3 separate regions of the Homo sapiens genome follow, and regions 1 and 2 are each linked to region 3. Evidence: fine-mapped expression QTL. A gene starts in region 3. Each other region holds a variant in brackets. All regions are shown on one strand. Distances are from middle to middle.

Region 1 (5,693 bases), 28 kb before region 3:
TGTCACAAGATGGGGCTCCCTGCGTGGCCAGGAAGGGTGGGTATCAAAGGCTCTGAGGTGTGCAGGGAGGAGCCTGGTGGAGTGGAAAGCAGCTCTGGAGTCAGGCAGCCATAGGCTTTCATCTGGGTCTGCCTCTCTGGACGCATGGCCTGCCAAACCTCCGTGACCTGTTTCTTTACCTTGATACAGCCTTTCAACAACCTTGCGAGGTCATTTTGAGAATTAAATGAGTTTCTTTGCAATTATACATGTGGTTCCCAGAACAGCACATGGCCCCACAGGTGATGAAAGGTACCTGTGATATCACGGGTCTTACTGGACGCCCACCCAAGATGTGTAGCGTCAAACTAGCATAAAACAGCAGATGTATCTCTGTCCAGTGGCACCATGTCCAGATGTTTGTGTGGGACAGGAGTTGCTGGCAGGTGCAGATGGCTCCTGAGCTACCAACCCGCCTTCAGGCTGACACCTGCCGGCCTCTCATCCCCCATGAACTCACTTCTCTTCCTCTTCATCCATGTCAGCCTCAGGAGAAGCTAGGCTTGCAGAAGGCTGCAGTTCCTGAGTGGGGCCATAGACCCTTGCCTCTGTGGCTCTGCCTATTCCCAAGGTGGTGGCAAATGACACCTGCTCCCTGGGCAGGGGAAGCACAGCCCGGGCGGCAGCTTAGCAGGGACAGTGTGGCGGCTGGGCCTTCCTGGTGTCTTCATTTCCCTGTGCAGCCCCACCATTCCCCCTTCTGGACCCTCGCGGACCCCATTTGTACCTCTCTGTCCCCCACCCCCTCCCATCCCCATTCTGCCTCTCTCTTCTCTTTCTCGGGCCCAGAGAGAGGTCTGAGTGGCAGTGAAGGTTCCGGCGTTTCAAGAGCTGCTCTTGTTCCTCTTGCTCTCGGTGGCGCAAGGTGAAGTCCTTATGATGTCCCGGGGTGACCGGGGAAGGAAGGCCCTGCTCATATCCGCCAGCATTCTAGTTCCTGCTGTGCTTGGTGGAAACCAGACAGACCGAAGCAGTCGGCTATAGTCGAGGTTTCTGGGAAACTTACTCACTTTGTAGGAAGTCATTTCCCTCTCTGGGTCTGTTTCCTTATCTGTAAAGTTAGGGGGTTGCCTGGGGGGAATCTGGGGTTCTTTCCTGGTGGTCCCATGCTGCCTTAGCCACCCTCACCATCCTGCCCAGGGCTGGTGTGTGTGGTGGAGGCGGCACATGTGCCTCGGAGAAGGCAGGCAGGAACTGCGGTCCCAGCCACGTGGGCTGCTCGGGGGCGTCCCGCGCAGGAGGCGGCTCCAAGGACCCACCCAACCCTCATGCCCACCTCCAACCTTCACTCTCTTCTCCGTAGGACACTCCCAGTTGCCGGGATGACCTGCTGAGTGACTACTTCCGAAAGGCCAGCGATCCCCCAGCCATCGGAGGCCAACCAGGACCACCTGCCAAGAAAGAAGGGGCCAAGATGCCCACCAACTTTGTGGCCCCCACCGTCAAAATGGCCGCCCCCACCTCGGAGGGGAGGCCGCTGAAGCCCGGGCAGTACGTAAAGCCAAACTTCAGACTGACTGAGGCCGAGGCCCCACCCAGCGTGGCCCCGAGACAGGCCCAGCCTCCCCAGAGCCTGTCTCTGGGCAGACCCCGGCAGGCTCCGGTGCCCCCAGCTTCCCATGCACCTGCCAGCCGCAGTGCCTCCTTGAGCCGGGCCTTCAGCCTGGCCTCAGCTGACCTTCTCCGGGCCAGCGGGCCAGAGGCCTGCAAACAGGAGTCCCCTCAGAAGCTGGGGGCTCCTGAGGCCTTAGGGGGCAGAGAGACAGGCAGCCACACCCTGCAAAGCCCCGCACCCCCCAGCTCCCATAGCCTGGCCCGGGAGCGGACCCCACTTGTGGGAAAGGCTGGCAGCTCCTGTCAGGGCCCAGGTCCCCGCAGCCGGCCGCTGGACACGAGGCGCTTCTCCCTGGCTCCCCCAAAGGAGGAGAGGCTGGCCCCCCTGCATCAGTCTGCCACAGCCCCCGCCATTGCCACTGCAGGTGCTGGTGCTGCTGCTGCTGGCAGTGGCAGCAACTCCCAGCTCCTGCACTTCTCACCTGCTGCAGCCCCGGCTGCCAGGACCAAGCCCAAGGCGCCCCCACGCTCAGGGGAGGTGGCCACCATCACCCCTGTCCGGGCAGGGCTCAGCCTCTCAGAGGGAGACGGGGTCCCGGGGCAGGGCTGCAGTGAGGGGCTTCCGGCCAAGAGCCCAGGTCGGTCTCCCGATTTGGCTCCCCACCTCGGCCGGGCCCTGGAGGACTGCAGTCGAGGGAGCGTCTCAAAGAGCAGTCCGGCCTCCCCGGAGCCCGGCGGGGATCCGCAGACCGTGTGGTATGAGTACGGCTGTGTGTGACTGTCTCGTGGTTGAGCTCGCAAACCTGAAAACTACTGACGCGCCTTCCGACTCTCACGGCCTTTTCTCTTGCTTGCCTGCGGTGCCAGGAGAGGGTTTGGAATGAGGAAAGGGGTTCCCACGCATTTCTGCTGTTTGTTCTGTGAATGGAAACACTGTGCCAAGCCCCAAGAGGATTACGCTTCCAGGTGTGTAACGTGTTTTCTGTGTCTGCCGCTTCCAGCAGCTGATATCTTTGGAACAAATAATCCACGTCAGCATGGGGACCAATT[A/C]GGATGCAATGACAAACTGACTTCCCCCAAAGCAGACACTACTCCAGTATGTCCCAGTAGAACACTCATTTGCAATGTGTTGAGCTCCGTTAAGCACACACACACTCACACAACAGGCTTACGAGGCTCAGGCCTGGCGGGTCAGAAAGCCCACTCCCTCTCCCAAGGCCACTGGATCCCAGGAGAAGCCCAGACTGGCGATACTACAAAGGTCTCCAGGGCCTGGCAGACCCCAGAGTCAGGCCTGCTGTTAAAAAGTGAGAGTGCTGCTGTTCCATTCCTGGGGTCCCAAGCACTTCCCTTTACCCCAGGACCCAGGGCAGCCTGCAGGGCAGCTGGCGGTGGCCTTGGCCATTTGCCCCCAGCCTCCAGCTGGCTCCTGAGCTCTGCACCAGGGGGTTTGGGGACCACACAGGCACCTGCCTTCCTAGATTTCCCTGGCTCACTTTTCTGCAAACACTGGATCTGCCAGGCCTGGGGATTGGGGGGCAGGAAAGAGGCCCCCATCCAGCCCCCTCCAGGCCAGTGTGCACAGTGCACCGAGGGGTCATCCGCACAGAGCGAGGTGCAAGCTCGATGTGTAACCTGGCTGCGGCACCCGACATCCCCGGTCTCGGGGTGTTGATTTATTTCTGAATAACTTTTTGGGTATAGAAACCAATTTTTTTTAATATATGACATGTATATGTACACACTCATGTGAAATATGTATACTTTGGGGGGATCTATTTATGTTCCAGTGGGAGTCACTCTCTTCTGTCGGGAATCTTATCTGCTGCTTTGTGTCTTTGGTCAGATTCCTGACAATTTAGTTTCCTGTTGTAAAGGTGCTTTTCCTGGGGTGAACTAAACCTATTGATTTTTTTTTTTTAAGATTTTTTTTTCCTTTTGATTTAATATACTGAGAAAGAAATGGGAGACTTTTGAATGTTAACAAGATCCATTTTAGGAGTGTTTGGGGTTGTGTATTAAATAGCCATTCATTCTGGAACTCAAGGACAGGACTGTAATAAAATGGAATGGAACCGAAGTGCGTTCTGGCTTTCCTCACTGCACATTGTTAGCATCGGGTGGGCCCCTGGGGACTTGGGGCTCCCTGCGCCCCTCCTTATGCACCCCTCCCTCTGCTCCCCTTCCTCTGTGCCCCTGCACCCCTCCCTCTGCGCCCCTCCACCCCTCCCTCTGCGCCCCTCCCTGTGCCCCTCCCTCTGCACCCCTACCCCTGCGCCCCTCCACCCCCCTGCGCCCCTCCACCCCCCTGCGCCCCTCCACCCCCCCTCTGCGCCCCTCCCTCTGCACCCCTCCCTCTGCACCGCTCCCTCTGTGCCCCTCCCTCTGCGCCCCTCCACCCCTCCCTCTGCGCCCCTCCCTCTGCGCCCCTCCACCCCTCCCTCTGTGCCCCTCCCTCTGCACCCCTCCCCCTGCACCCCTCCCTCTGCATGCCGGCGACCCTTCCTCCACAGTTGGAATCCACCACTTTCCTTGCCACTAGGTGGGGGAAGCTGTTACACGTGCAACCAGAGACAGATGTGAAGGACAAAGATTTCCTGTACGGTGACAGCTTTCCACCCCTCCTCAGGTGTGTTTAAGTTGGCATCAATTGAATCCTATTTTATTTGTTTTTCTAATGGGTCACCACCACCACAGGGGGCATGCAATGGGCTGGAGACCAGTCTGGGCAACATAGCAAGACATTGTCTACAAAAGATAGAAAAATTAGCCAGGCGTGGTGGTGTATACCTGCAGTCCCAGCTACTCGGGAGGCTGAAGACAGAGGATCCCTTAAGCCCAGGGATGTTGAGGCTGCAGTGAGCAGTGATGGTGCCACTGCACTCTAGCCTGGGAGACAGAGTGAGGCCCTGTCTCAAACAAAAAATAAAATAGCGGGGTATGGTGGTTTGCACCTGTAGTCCCAGCCACTATGGAGGCTGAGGCGGGAGGATCACTTGAGCCCCAGCAGTCGAGGCTTCAGTGAACCAGGACTTGTGCCTCTGCACTCCAGCCTGGGCGACACAGCAAGACCCCATCTCAAAAATAATTGAAGAACCCCATTTTGCTATGGCGTTCATCTCATGTCGTGACAGGAGCTCAGCCTGAAGGGGCTCCTTATGATTTTCCCAAGGCTACTCAACCAGTAAATGCTGGATCTGGAATTTGGACCTTAGGGGCCGAAGATACTGAAATCGGATGCATGGTGGAGAGGAGGAAGAGAGGGAAGGAGGAGGCATGAAAATGGCCATGCCTGACCAAGGTTCTTCTGATGTTTTTCTGTCCAGCTGCTGCCTCAGTGTCTCCTTCCTTCTCACCAAGCCTATTTTTTGGCTCTCTCCTCTCACCTCCTTGCCCGTTCTCCCCGAGGCTCTGCAATCTGTCCTTGTATCTGGCCACTCCACAGAAACTGCCATCCATGCTGTTTTGAGCCAGACTGAGCGGTGGCCACCCGCAGTCTTCATCCTGTGTGGCCTTTGCAATACTTGACAGCTGGCCAGGCACTTCTTGGCACCCTTAGCCTCTGCTGCACGCTTCTTTGTCCCTCTGGGACAGCTCTGTGCTGCCTGCTCCTTCGTCCCTTCATTCATCCCTCCCGGGGACATCAGGGCTGCGGGCAGAGCCCTGGATTCTGCCTCCACCACTCTCCTGTCGTGCATTCCCCCTGCAGGCCTGACCCCACCCTCCCTACAAAGGGAGCGCTTGTGGAGGTGACCTCCAGCCCAGCGTCTCCTGACCTTCAGGCCAGGACTGCTGCCCTCATCAACCCAGCTCCCCTGTTCCCAGGACCATCTCTGCAGCCTCAGGAGCCTGAGATTCGAGCTGGACCCCTCCTTTCCTCACATCCCACATATCACACGTCACATCCTGGACCTGAGGGTGGGGTGGGAATCTGGGCCGCTCCCCTCTGCCAGCTGTCTCTGCCCTAGTTCACACCCTCCCGCCGACTGGTCCCGCTGCCTCAGGCTCTCCCCCTACTCTTCCATCCACTCCAGCCGGCTTTTGGTCCCACTGGTCCTGCGGGAGAGCTCCTGTCAAGGTCGCTAATCCAGAGGCAACTT
Region 2 (6,897 bases), 20 kb before region 3:
CTCACTCTCCCCCGTGGTCCTGTTACTCCATCAGCTGCTTTCAACGCTAAGACCCTGCTCACCTCCACAGCCAATCCCAAGCCACAGCCCCCTTCAGCAGTACCATGGGATCCTGTGGCTAAGAGAGCACCCTGGATCACGCCCCCTCCTGAGTTCCAGGGCCCCACCCTCTGCGTTGGTGTGGTGTGTGACCTGGTGGCTGGGAAATACCCAAGTTGCAGCTGGATATGCTTTTTTTTCCTTCTGAGACAGGGTCTTACGCTGTCCCTCAGGCTGGAGTACAGTAGTATGACTATGGCTCACTGCAACCTCAAGTGATCCTCCTGCCTCAGCCTCCTGAGTAGCTGGGACTACAGGCACATGCCACCACACCTGGCTAATTTTTTATTTTTTGTAGAGACGGGGTCTTGCTACATTGCCCAGGCTGGTCTCAAACTCCTGACCTCAAGTGATCCCTCGACCTTGGCCTCCCAAAGTGTCAGGATTGCAGGTGTCAGCCACCACACCTGGCCAGAGTTTGACTCTTTATCATCAGTAACAATTTATAAATAATAAAACATACAATAACAATTATTGTAAAATCCATACAACCAATTGATTCTTGCAGAAAGCTCATTGATTTTTTTGCTGGTGTATTTGTAGCCAACCTAGGCTTGCAACTGACAAATGAGCATAGCTTCAACACAAATGTGGTTGATAATTTCTTTCACGTTAACATGTAAGATGAAAGGGAAACAAGTCAAAGATGTATGTCAGAACTTCACTGAAAACATGAGTAACTTTGTTTAATCAAGTGGTAGTTTCTGAATGCTGAACAAATATTTCCTCAATTTTTTGTACTATTCCTATTATAATGGCTACAGATGCAACACACTTTTTTAAAAATTGAGATATAATTTACATACCATAATATTGACCCAAGGCATCTTCTCTATTTTTTTTAAGTCTAGAGACACTAGACAATGAAAAAATATATAAATCAAGCCCAAGTTTATAACATTTACCAATTTCTGTGCTATAAGTACTCTCACCATGGCCAACATCAAGCTGCCAGCACTGAACACATCACTTAACACGGAACTGATCTCAATCTTTGAGATTAAAAAATCTCAGTTTTTATTATTTATTTTTTTGAGATGGAGTCTCACTCGTCGCCCAGGCGGGAGTACAGTGGCACGATCTCGGCTCATTGCAACCTCCGCCTCCTGGGTTCAAGCAATTCTCTGCCTCAGCCTCCTGAATAGCTGGGATTACAGGCGCCCGCCACTACGCCGGGCTAATTTTTCTGTTTTTAGTAGAGACGGGGTTTCACCATCTTGGCCAGGCTGGTCTTGAACTCCTGACCTCATGATCCACCCGCCCCGGCCTCCCAAAGTGCCGAGACTGTACAGTTGTGAGCCACTGTGCCTGGCCTCAATTTTTTAAAAATCGAGATATAATTTATATATCATAATATTCACCCAAGACATCTTCTCTATCATTCTTAACAGGTATACATGACAGCCTTCAGAATAAAGACTAGACCCCCTCCAGTGAAGTCCAGAAACTTATATACTACCTCGAGGTTACAGACAGAATGGGGGCTTATGGGAGAGGGAGAAGAATTCTATTGAGGGATTATAAATGATTACTAGGGAGAACGATTGGATGGGGAACAGAAAGTAACTTGTAAAATTCTTTGGAATTTATATGATCCTTGGCAACAGTCACTGTCTTGAAAGAGTCTGTTCAGATGTGGTTACATTCTGGGTCTTCTTTGCTGTGAAGGGTAATGAGATAACGGGCGAACAAGAACAACTGTTCTCCTTGGTGATTCAGTCCTTTCTTTTTGTAGAAGGGGGAAAGTTTCTTCCAGTTTATTGATCTCTAAGGGTGTTGAATTCAAAATACTCACTATACCAGGGAGCCATATTTTGGGGTGAAATATTTTGGGATTTCCTTCACCAGAAAGAGATGCACCTCATGGTATAATATCACCACCATACAGATACAATAGGTGTAACCTGAAAGCATGGGCAAAAGTAAAATAATTAGGAAGTGGGGAGTCTTGAGTGTTACCTTTGCTTTTCATGTAAGTTACTCGATGGTAGGTTTACATAAGTTAATTGTTAATAATGGCTGTGCTGAACAACTGGCTTGCAAAATTCCTGGAAATTCACAGATGTGCTTTCACAAGCCAGCACAGGTCGGCTTGGCACAGGGAGCACCACCTCTTAGGGATGGGCTGCAGGGGAAGAGTCTGAATGATTGAGCAGAAATAACCAAAGGTGAAGAAGGAACGAGAAGAGAAGAGAAGCTAGGGGCTTTGCGGAGCTGACCGTCCTAAGGTGTACGCAGCTATGCCAGCCGCTGGCTGTCTCCTAGGCCATTTCCCTCTCATTTCTGCCCTCCCAGCCCCATGAAAGGCCTCAGGGAGAGGGGTACCAGGTGTGCAGGATGGCCACAGGGATCCGATTCCAAAGGTCTGCTGAGGCAGGCCCAGTAGCAGGCTCAGAGCAGAACAACCCAGCCGCCTCAGACTCAGCTGGCCCCAAACTCAGCCCTGGAAGAGCCTAGGTTTGAGAGACGTGGTTTTCCCGCACAAGGCACAGAGAATGGCCACTCGGGCTTGTCTGGAGGCTGGGAAACTCTGTCCCGGCTTCTCTCTCACCTTCCACCCTCCCTCCTTGCCCTTCTCCAGAGACAGCAGAAAGAGTCCGCCAGGGGAATGACAGACCCCAGGCCCGGGGGCAAGCCCGTCACCTCTCCATCCGTATGGGGTACAATGGTCTCCACCGGGCAGAGTCCATAGCCCGAAGTCAAGCGCAGAAATGTCCCCTCTCCAAGCTCCGGCCTTTTGGCCCAGCCCCACGAAGTTGGGTTCATCGTGTCACATCTGAGAGCAGAGGCAGAACCAGCTACCTGCTCCCCATCTCCCTTCCCACAAAGAGACCACAAATAGATAGGGGCAGGGATCCAGCCAGCCCGGCCGCAGGGAGGGAAACCTGGGCCCCTCGAGCCCCGGGGGGAGGGAGGTGCCCTAGGAGCTGTCCTGGCAGCCGCACCCTCCCCAGGCCGGTGGGGG[T/GT]GCAGGTGCCCTGGTGTCCGGCGGGGCCTGGACTCTGTCCCCGTGGCGGGGTGGGCGGCGGAGCCTCCGCCTCCCGCCCGAGGACCCCGCACGGCGAGCTCCGCGCCGGTCCCGCCACGCCCCGCAGGCGCCGTCCCCGCGGCCACTCCCTCCCGCGGGCCCAGCCGAACCGCGGCCGCGCTTCCTGCACCCGGGACCCGACAGAGGTGAGTGCGCCGGGCGGCCGGGGCGAGGGTTGACGGCGGCGCCAGCGCGGGGACGCACCCGGGAACGGCTGACCTTCAGCGAGGCCGGCTCCCCGCCAGCTACCGGGGCGGAAAATTCAAATCCAATCTGTGGAATAAAGGCCTTCGGGGGAAGTGGAGCAGGAGAAGGACTGGGGTAGGTCTCTGTGCTAGGATAGGATACAAATGGATGGGGCTCTTGGGGCCCAGGGACTTCCCACCCTGAGGGTGTCATGGAGTGGCGTCTAGGGGGACGGCAGGCCAGAGGGGCTCCCTTGCCCAGGGTTCCTGGAGTGGGGGCAGATCTCAAAAGTCCAGCACTGTCCAGACCCAATGAGGACATGACCTTTCACAGGTCAGCTGCAGCTGAGGCACCGAGAGGAACACTACGGGAGGAGTCCAAGGACCCGGGCCCAGGCGGGAGGTCTGGGCTCCGTGGCAACTCTTAAAGCTGGGGAAATGCTATTCCACCCGGGCCCAGAGAGAGGAGAGAGGCGAAAGGAGGAGGGAGGGGCACACTAATATTTACTGAATGCCCGCCTGGTGCCAGGTACTTCTCACACATTATTTAACTGCCTCGTTTTATCCTTCCATCTTCCCTCATTCATTTATTCAGCAAAACGGGCACTCTGCTGGGCTTTGGCCTGAGCTGGAGGGAGCTGGTCACTGCCCATGTAATTCACACTTTACATGGGAGACAGACTGTAATTCAGAGCGACCGCACGCTACATGGGAGACAGACTATAATTCAGAGTTACCGATGGGAGGTCTGCACTGCTTCTCCTTCTTGCCCAAGATGATCAAAATCAAACTAAGTGGCCCCCAGCAATACACTCCTGGGCCAGTGAGCCCCCACCATCAACATTCAAGGGCCCCTTCTGTATCCACAGCATCACACACACCAGTCACTGAGAGAAGTCCTAGGATACCTCTTAGTCACTTTTGGGTTTCAGTTCAGAATCACCTCTTCCAGGAAGGCTTCCCTGACTTCCCGCCCTCCAGACCAGGTGCTTTTTACTTTGGCTCCTGAGGCGTGGCTCCTCCCTGCCCATTATCCTCCAATCATAGCTGTTATCAGAATGTTGTTCTTGCTGTATTCATCCTGGTTTTCCCTTCTAACCAGTTTCAAAAAATCTCAGCCCCCTCAAGTTCCATGTCTAGTATATACATCATGTTTTTATTTGAATATTTTACCTTGGGAGCTGGATTACCGCAGGACCTCCACTCAAAAAATGGAAACTCGAAACTTATGTCTTACCATCACTATTTTCAGATTCCGTCTGTGCTCCTCAATTTCCTGGGCAGAGTTCATCATTTCCAGGCCCCTGTGGTACAAATTCTGTTACCTCTGATTGACCCCTGGGGCTCCTGACTGAGGAGAGAGAGCAGATAGTAACCCACCTTCTAAAGAAAGTAGCTCCACTTCCAGCTCTCGAAGACTCTCAGCCTCCAAATGCTCTCCCTCTAACCCCAGTTCTACTCCCCGCCCCGCCCCTCCCCGCTGCCCCGTACTGACAGTGTGTGTTGGGGGGTGGAGATTGCAAGGTGGAGGGGGCTGCTGTTGGTGGAAGTCCTGATTAGGGAGTGGAGTCAGGCCCCACCACTAAAGAGGACCTAGACCCAGTGGTCAATTCCAAGGCAAGGGGGAAAATCCCACTCTTGGTTCTATTACACAAATATATTATTTTTTAAAAAGAAATTACAATCTACTTCCAGAAATAGAAAATCAGTACCCCTTGCCACAAAAAGAAGGTAATTAAACAAATAAAAGTGAGGGACTAGGCAGAAGTGTTATTAAACTTTAGCACCTGTGAACATACCTGAGGCCTGCTCTCTAGGCTAAAAAAGGAGATGAGCAAGAATGAGAGTGGTGTTAAAGCACCCATGTGAGGCTTTCTCCTTAGTGTAATAAGACAGATTAAGAAAGGATTGGGACCGGGTGTGGTGGCTCACGCCTGTAATCCCAGCTTTGGGAGTGGATCACTTGAGGTCAGGAGTTCGAGACCAGCCTGGCCAAACACGGTGAAACCCCCGTCTCTACTGAAAATACAAAAGTTAGCCGGGCATGGTGGTGCACGTCTGTAATCCCAGCTACTCTAGAGATGAGGCAGGAGAATTGCTTGAACCCAGGAGGCAGAGGTTGTAGTGAGCAGAGATTGCGTCACTGCACTCCAGCCTGGGTGACAGAGCAAAACTCCATCTCAAAAAAAAAAAAAAAAAACGGCTCTGACGGGAATAACAAAAATAATCACTGACTCCTTCAGTCAGCACCTGCTGAGTGCAGAGAGCCCAGCAGTGCCTGGAGTGATATAAAACAAACCTTCAGTTAATCTTGTTATCAACTAAAGGGCTACTTCTTCCAGGAAGTCCACCCTGATGTGCCCCTTCACAAGCTAAACCTCTCCTGCTGTAACGCTTGCCATGTTTCATTGCAATGGCATATTGTCTTCCACTCCTGAGTATAAATTTCATAAGAACAACCACTAGAGCCAGTTGCGGTGGCTCACGCCTGTAATCCCAGCACTTTGGGAGGCTGAGGCGGGCGGATCACCTGAGGTCAGGAGTTCAAGACCAGCCTGACCAACATGGTGAAACCCCGTCCCTACTAAAAATACAAAATTAGCTGGGCGTGGTGGCACATGCCTGTAATCCAGCTACTTGGGAGGCTGAGGCAGGAGAATTGATTGAACCTGGGAGGCAGAGGTTGCGGTGAGCCAAGATCATGCCATTGCACTCCAGCCTGGGCAACAAGAGCAAAACTCTATCCCCAAAAAAAAAAAAAAAAAAAGAACAACCACTAGGTCTATCTTGTTCACCTCACTGTCCTGGCACCGGCTCCACCCTGGCCCCACAGCCTAGAGCACAGGTGTTAAATGAGCTGATGAACGAATAATGAATGAATAACTGAGTGAGCCTCCCTGACTTCCAATTATGCCTTTCTTTCCTTCTCCCTGCCCTCCTCCCTGTCCTTATCCAAACCCTCCATCCTTCAAGGCCCTGCCAGGGGTCCGGCTTCTCCAGAGGCCTTTTTAAACCAACGGATCCACCCTAAGCCCTCTTGCCCCAGAATATTCCATCGCTGGCAATACGCATACCCAGGGCACATTCAGTTCCATGGTCTGGTGTGTTCCCCACACCTCCAGAGGGCAGGGGCTGTGGGTGACACTTAAACCACAGGTGCTCAGGAAACACTGAGGAGTGACTCCACATGGTCCAGCCTCCAAGTACAGAGCTGTGTTGGGTCTCAACAGCTGTGTTAGTTTCCTGTTGCTATGGAACAAATTACCACCAACTAACTTAGTATCTTAAAACAACACACATTCATTATTTTAGAATTCTAGAGGACAGAATAGAGTCTCACGGGGCTAAAACTAAGGTGTTGGCAGGGCCAGCCAGGTCCTTTGTGGAGGTCCAGGGGAGACTCCATTTCCTTGCCTTTTTCAGCGTCTCAGGCCTGCCTGCATTTCTTGGCTTGCGGCCCCTCCCATCTTTAAAGCTGACAGTGGATGGCGGAGCCCTTCCCTCTCTACATCACTCAAAGTTTCTCTTCTGCCTCCTGTTTCCACCCTTGTGATGACACTGGGTCCACTTTGATAACCCAGGATCATC
Region 3 (7,134 bases):
GTCTCAAACCCTGAGTCAAGCAATCCACCCGTCTCAGCCTCCGAAAGTACTGGGATTATAGGCATGAGTCACCTCACCCAGCCAGCACTATACAGGGTTTTAAGTAAGTATCACAAGGTGGGTGTGGGAGGCAGAATAATGCCCTCTCTAAAGAGGCCCAGTTCTTAATCCCCAGAACCTGCCACTGCGTTACCTTACGTGGCAAAGGGAGATTAAGGCAGCAGGTGGAATTAAGACTCCTAATCAGCTGACCTTAAAGTAAGGAGTGATCCAGCATTGTCACAAGCAAGGACCCTTTGAAGTGGAAGAGGGAACATGAGAGTCAGAAGAGGAGATGTGATGTGAGAAGGACTCAGTTGACTGCTGTAGGCTTTGAAGATGGAAGATGCCACAAGCCAAAGTATGCTAGAAGTCTCTAGAAGCTGGAAAGACAAGGAAATGGATTTTAGAGCCTCAAGAAAGAATGCGGCCCTGCAGACTGCAGTTTTGATTTTAGCCAGTAAGATCGATGTCATGCTTTTGACCTCCAAAACTGCAAGATAAGAAATCGATGTTGTTTCAGCCAGCCACGGTGGCTCACGCCTGTAATCTGAGTACTCTGGGAAGCCAAGACAGGTGGATCACTTGAGGCCAGTAGTTTGAGACCAGCCTGGCCAACATGGCAAAACCCCATCGCTACTAAAAATACAAAAATTAGGGCCAGGTGTGGTGGCTCACGCCTGTAATCCCAGCACTTTGGGAAGCCGAGGTGGGCGGATCACCTGAGGTCGAGAGTTCAAGACCAGCCTGACCAACATGGAGAAATCCCATCTCTACTAAAAATACAAAATTAGCCAGGCATAGTGACACATGCCTGTAATCCCAGCTACTCAGGAGGCTGAGGCAGGAGAATAGCTTGAACCTGGCAGGTGGAAGTTGCCGTGAGCCGAGATCACGCCATTGCACTCCAGACTGGGCAACAAGAGCGAATCTCAAAAAAAAAAAAAAAAAAAAAAAGTTAGCCTGGTGTGGTGGCGCATGCCTGTAATCCTAGCTCCTTGGGAGGCTGAGGCAGGAAAATTGCTTGAACCCAGGAGGTGGAGGTTGCAGTGAGTGGAGGTGGTACCACTGCACTCCAGCCTGGGCAACAGGATAATCCCTGCCACACAGAGTTGATATAAGGATTAAACAAAGGATGGGCACAGCACCTGGTGCAAAGCAAATGCTCAGGAAATGGTAAAGGGAGCTCTTGGCACTGAGCCACTCCAGGCTATTTTCTAACTCCTTGAGGGCCAAGCACATGAGAGAGCATGGGCTCTTTTTTCTCTTACTGAGCTAGCATTTCACAAAGACCTGGGCTCAGCCAATTTGAGTAAAACCAAAGAAAGTTTCACCCCTCCTTCATCCCAAAGGCATGGTCCTTACTCCAGGTGCAGTAGGGCACATGCTGCCAGCAGAGGGGCTGGGGCAGCTTGCCAGCCCCTGGCAGGGCTGGAGGCGGGAGGGGACACCATGCCATTAGTGGTTCCTGCAGGTATAGACGATGATGGTGTAGACGGCCGGTGTGTGCACACCCTGTTAGGACAGGCCACCCCGTAGAGGGCCAGAGGTGCTCTCTCTGGCAGGTTGTGTCCTAGGGGTAAGCCAGGCAGTCACTGCTAAGTCAGTTCTGTGCTCCTAACCCCGCGTCCTCCTATATGACATCAGGGAAAGCCAGCCACACTTCCGCAACTCAGAAGTAGCACGTGTGTCTAAATGCACGCTACTGCACCACAACAAGCTGAAGCCTTTGCTCGTAACATAAGGCCTGCAAGAAGCAACTGACGTAGGAAACTTTTTTTTTTTTGAGACGGAGTTTCGCTTTTGTCGCCCAGTCTGGAGTGCAATGGCATGATCTCAGCTCACCGCAACCTCTGCCTCCCAGGTTCAAGTGATTCTCCTGCCTCAGCTTCCCGAGTAGCTAGGATTACAGGCATGCGCCACCACCCCCAGCAAATTTTTGTATTTTTAATAGAGATGGGGTTTCACCATGTTGACCAGGCCGGTCTCCAACTCCTGACCTCAGGTGATCCACCCGCCTCGGCTTCCCAAAGTGCTAGGATTCCAGGCGTGAGCCACCGCACCTGGCCGGAAATAGTTTTTAAAAGGCCTGCTATGTGGTAGCATTTGCTTGGAGGGCCCAGGCCCCACTGAAGGGGATTTCCTTAGACCCCCTACCAACAGAGTGAGGGCAGTGGAGCCAAGGCTCTTGGCATGAATAAGATGGGCATCAGTGTTTTAAACTGTGTTGGTCCCCAGAGCAGGGACCAAGCACAGGGCTCTGGCCACTTCCAGCAGGAAGGACTCGCACCCCCAGTGGCCCCATGCACCGTATCTGTTGGCTTCCTGGCTCTGGCAACGTAGCTTATAATCAGCTTCCAAGGAGTCTGCCTTGGAGGGAGGTGGTTACGCCAAAATGCTGGGCCTTTCCATCCTCCGTGTTATGTGTGTGAGGGAGGGAGTTTAGTAAGTGCTCCTGAGAGCCAGAAGGGCCCCCGGGGCCAGAGCCCTGGGCTTGATTCCTTCTCTGGGGACCGACACAGTTGAAAACATTGATGCCCGCCCTATCCTTACTGATGCCCAGAGCCTTAGCTCCACTGCCTTCGCTCTGCTGCTCTGCCAAACAGGATCCTACCTGCTTCACCACATCCGTGGCTGCCCACCTTCACTGCACTTTAGAACAGTCCAGGGAGCTTTAGAGCCACTGATGCTGGCACGTCACTTCCAGGAAACATGATTTAACCAGCCCCGGGTGGGGCCCGGGCATTGGTATTTTTTTTGTAGGCTCCCAGGTATGTTCTCATGCACATGGCCAGGGTTGAGCCCCAGTGACCCAGATGTTGGCGGCTTCCCCCACCCTTGCCTGGATCCCGGTATCCTGTAGGTGCTGAAAGGTGGCTAGAATTAGCCCACCCCCTCCTCCTGTATCCCCCCACCACAGTCCTGAGGGCACCTGCCCCTAGCTCAGGCTTTCACATTCCCAGCGAGGCTGCTCACTGACTCTGGGTTGCATGGAGAGCAGAGGAAGATGCGTGGAGAGAGCCATTCCGCCGCCCTCAGCCTCTGGCTGGCGAGTGGTTCCTCGGCAACCGCCCAGCCTGACACCAGATTGGAGTTCACATGATTCTGCCTCAGCTCGGGAATGGGCAGCCTCCAGCTGGGGATTTTCTAGCCGGAGCTGGGAGGTTCAGGCTGCGGGAAGTCGCTGGAGGGAGAGCTGGGATCGTGGCTGCAAGGGTGCCCAGGCTCCTGCAGAGCCTCTGCAGGAAGCCCAGCTGTTTGAGGTTTGAAGGCAGAGCCTAGCTGGGGCAGGCAGAGTCAGAGAGGACTCGTTTCAGAGTCCCCCCTCAGAGGACTCCCTCCATCCTGATTTCAGCAGCTGCCTGCTCCTCACCTGGTTGCAGAGACCACACTGCCTTCCTGGGGCCCTGAGGCTCTAGGAGAAGCTGGAAAGCACAGGTGGGGGTCCATCCAGCTGTTTCCAAACTGCGGGTTGTGACCCATTCATGGGTCAGTAAATCAACTTCATAGCTCATGACCTGCATTTAAAAAATTGAAATAGAATAGAAATGATCAGAGTGCGTGGCAAGAAGTAGGGTAAGTATTGCTTTGGGGAAGTTTGTTGCTTTGTACAGATGTGTGTGTGTGTGTGTGTGTGTGTGTGTGTGTGTGTGTCTGTGTTCTGGGTCGCGATGTCAGGTGTATTTCTTGCTATTGCTTGTGATCCAAAAAGCTCAAAGGCAGCAAGTTGGTGCCTAGACACGTGGGTTCTGGATTCAGATCCACCCCAACTGACTGTGTGAGTTTGAGCCTCCCTGCATTAGCCTCTCTGGGCTTCAGGTTCTGAGAAATGGCTTAGCAATGCCAGCCCACCTGACTCACAGGGACTTCGTGGGCCCAGATGGGACTGACCTTTGAAACAGTGACAAGGGTTCTAGAAGTGAGATGCTATGGTCCACGTTGTTGCTGGAGTGAGGCGATCTGGGGGGAAAATGGGGACTAAGGAAAAATGCATCCTGATGTTTCCCCTCTCCTCAGAGGGAAAAATAAAGCACTTTCAGAAAATGAAACAGCCTTGCTTAAAGCATGCAGAGGTTTGGCCAACTGAAGGAAAAGGAAGCTGGGCCCTGGGGAAACTCCCCAGCTCTTGTGGGTTTGGGGTTCCGTGAGCAGCCCTGGCACCATGAGTAACTGTCTGTGTGCGTGCCGGTGTGTGCTGCACGAAAGGGGGGGCGAGTTAGATCACTATTTATGTGCCAGCTGGAATCCAGCATTTAGGCACCTCCGCCTTCTGACTTGGGACATGCAAGAGACTCCTAGCTTAGTCAGAGAGGCCTTTCCTTCCTGTTGGGAGCTTAATTTCTCTTGGTCATTAAAGTCCTCAGAGACCTCTATGCTGATTTGCATTTGCTAAAGATTTGCTTTCAGGCGTTGAGTCACTCTATAGTTTTTCTCAATTTTTTAGCTGGGTAATAAAGTGTTATTTTGATTCTTTTCTCCAATGCCTTCCCAAACTACGGACTGGCCACGTGGCTGGTTTTCCTCAGTGGGCGTTGAAAACATGGTTGACCTGCTAAAGCATAGTCCAGGTGAAGGGGCCAGGCCAGGACCAAGCCTGGTGGCCATTGCTGCAGCATCTGTGAGGACTGGAGCTTGGCTGAGCTGGGGGCTTGAGGGTGGTGGTTCTGGGATGATCATGATAGTCAGCACAGCATGAAGGAAAGTATGGACCAGTCCGAGTTCCAGACCTGGCCTGCCGCATCTCAACTGCAGAGACTTCAGCAGGTTGGTTCATCTCTCTGAGCCTCAGTTTCTTTATCTGTAAAGTGGGAGCTGATGAGAGTGGTGTTGAAAGAGAGAACAGACATTCAGAAACTTGCCTGGCAAGTGCAGGGCCCTCGACAGATGTGGCTTAGTTCTTCTCTACATCTACGTTTTTCCATTTATGGAATATTTTCGCATCCACTGTGTTCTTTGATTTTTGAGGAGGAAGGTTCCTGTGGAGATGAGGTAGAGGGCAAGTCAGAGTTTCCATCTGGGGGTGCCTGTCCTCAGGGAACAGTAGAAGGGAAGGCACTGGTGAAAAATCAGGACCCTCAGACCAGCTCAGGCAGGCTGAGCAGAGAGGGGACCACGGTGATTCCTCCTCCTCACTTTCCTGTTTCTATTAATGATATCCTCACTGTCCCAGCACCCAGCCTCAACCCCCCACCACTTACCTATCCACTCACTCACCTACTCACCTACTCACCTATCCACCCACCCATAATCCATCTGCCACCCATTCCCTCATCCATCTATCCATCTTCCCCTCACCTGTGCATCCATTTACACATTCACCCATCCACTTAGCCACCCACCCACCCACCCACCCACCCTTCCATCAGCTCACCTATCCACCCACCCATACGTCCGTCTGTCCACCCATTCACTCATCCCTCTATCCCTCTACCCCTCACCCATGCATCCATTTACACATTCACCCATCCACTTATCCATCCACCCACCCATCTATCCACTCACCTCTCCAGCTGCCCATATATCCATCTATCCAGCCATCCAGTCATCCATCTATCTGGCTACCCCTATCCCTCCATTTACTCATTCACCCTCCCACCTCTCCACCATCCATCCAACAAATAATTCTGGGGAGGCTATAAGGACCAGGCACCAAGAAAAATCTCCAATTTGCCCCTGGTTGTTCCCCACCTCCCTTGTAATTACTTGCCAGTTCTACAGCTTCACACTGTTTCCTCTCTCGCCCTGCCTACCTCTTATTTAGATCCAGTCACACCAACCTACTTTCAGTTCCGCAGAGCTGCCCCTTCTCTTCCTCTTGCATTTCGTCTGTTTCCACACATTTTCCACAGGTAGAAACTCTCCTCTGCTTCGGCAGCACTTCCTCTTTCTTCTGATCTTACTGTAACTGCCGATGCTCAGGAAGGCCTTTCCTGACAGGGTGAGGCCCCCACCCGTGAATCCTCACAAAACCCTGCGCTCTCTTTGTGAGCTTGTTTCACTTATCTTCTCTCCTCCGCCTTAGGACTAAAAACCACTTGTTACTAGGGGCCAGTGTCTAGTGTTGTGCCTTCCATATAATAGACACTCGGTGAGTATTTGCTGTATGAATGAATACTTGGGTGGACGGATGGATGAATGGATGATGGATGTTTGAATGGATGGATGAACAGATGGATGGATGGGTGGATGATTGGAGAACCATGGAAGCATTTGCAGCAGGGTGTGACTGGGTTAGATTTCTGTTTAGAGGATGGCTTTGAGGATAGTAAGATGGAGACAGGAAGCAGCCCAGGAGGAGGCTGTTGCACTGACTCTGGGAAGGAGCTCTTGACCAAGCCCATCTAGGGTGCTGGCAAGAGAGCTGAAGAGGAGGAGATGGATGTAGGAAATACTTAGAGTTGAAAATGGTAGAACTTGGAAATTAACTGGACGCTGTGGATGAAGATGTGGGTGAAAGCTGAAGGCCAGCCATTGACATGAATGATTGGGCAGGTGAGGAGGCCCCTTCCAAGAACAGGGCAGTGGAGAAAATGATGGACCCAGCGTGGGCCTCACTGAGCGTGTCCTGTGAGTGGCAGGAAGCTGGTTATGCCTTCATCCTGGGAAAGACCTGGGAGTCATCAGAGTGTAGATGGGGTTGAAACCACGGAGAAGCAGCCATCCCACAGGGAGTGCACAGGGAATAAAAAGGGCAAACCAGTGTTTAATGTGTGTGGCAGAGAGGCCCACTGCACCCACCATACACTGCCTTGCATGATAGTGATTTGTGCATGGGACATTCCTGTCTTTCGAGCTTGGAGGTTCCTTGAGACTGGCAGCCATTTCTTGCATTTTGTTTGTTTTGAGATGGGGGGTCTCACTCTGTCACCCAGGCTGGAGTACAGTGGCACGAACATGGCTCACTGCGGCCTTGACCTCCTGGGCTCAAGCGATCCTCCCACTTCAGCCTTCTGATTAGCTGGGACTATAGGTGTGCACCACCATGCTTTGCTAATTTTTAAATTTTATGTAGAGACAGAGTCTTGCTGTGTTGCCCAGGCTGGTCTTGAATGTTGCGGGAAGTCAGGGACCCTGAATGGAGGGACCGGCTGAAGC

Alleles and levels. Alleles are on the strand shown, and positions count from the first base shown. SD is a standard deviation of normalised expression in the study named.
With allele A in place of C in region 1, the expression in regulatory T cells of the gene that starts at base 3,208 in region 3 is higher (large effect, 0.87 SD a copy in Schmiedel 2018).
As copies of T replace GT in region 2, the expression in lung of the gene that starts at base 3,208 in region 3 goes down (small effect, 0.18 SD a copy in GTEx).

What was found. PIP is the estimated chance that this variant, and not a neighbour inherited with it, causes the effect.
Region 1: its variant is the best candidate, but not a certain one, in a credible set for the expression of GPR68 in regulatory T cells (Schmiedel 2018, PIP 0.70).
Region 2: its variant is the best candidate, but not a certain one, in a credible set for the expression of GPR68 in lung (GTEx, PIP 0.76).

What each region holds. Positions count from the first base shown.
Region 1 is chr14:91,269,303-91,274,995 of GRCh38, reverse strand. CCDC88C (coiled-coil domain containing 88C) reads left to right here. Exons shown (of 30, transcript NM_001080414.4): 30 at 1,343-3,673. The coding sequence ends at 2,371. It also overlaps a transcript of GPR68 not described here. Among named protein-coding and RNA genes, the nearest start is that of GPR68, 27 kb to the right of the region's middle. RefSeq lists a cis regulatory region at 5,288-5,566. The variant A/C (reference allele first, on the strand shown) is at 2,644.
Region 2 is chr14:91,260,883-91,267,779 of GRCh38, reverse strand. It overlaps a transcript of GPR68 not described here. Among named protein-coding and RNA genes, the nearest start is that of GPR68, 20 kb to the right of the region's middle. RefSeq lists cis regulatory regions at 1-257, 2,763-3,398 and a silencer at 3,149-3,208. The variant T/GT (reference allele first, on the strand shown) is at 3,065.
Region 3 is chr14:91,240,778-91,247,911 of GRCh38, reverse strand. GPR68 (G protein-coupled receptor 68) reads left to right here and starts at 3,208. Exons shown (of 2, transcript NM_001177676.2): 1 at 3,208-3,615. RefSeq lists enhancers at 3,441-3,490, 3,010-3,511, 4,571-4,680.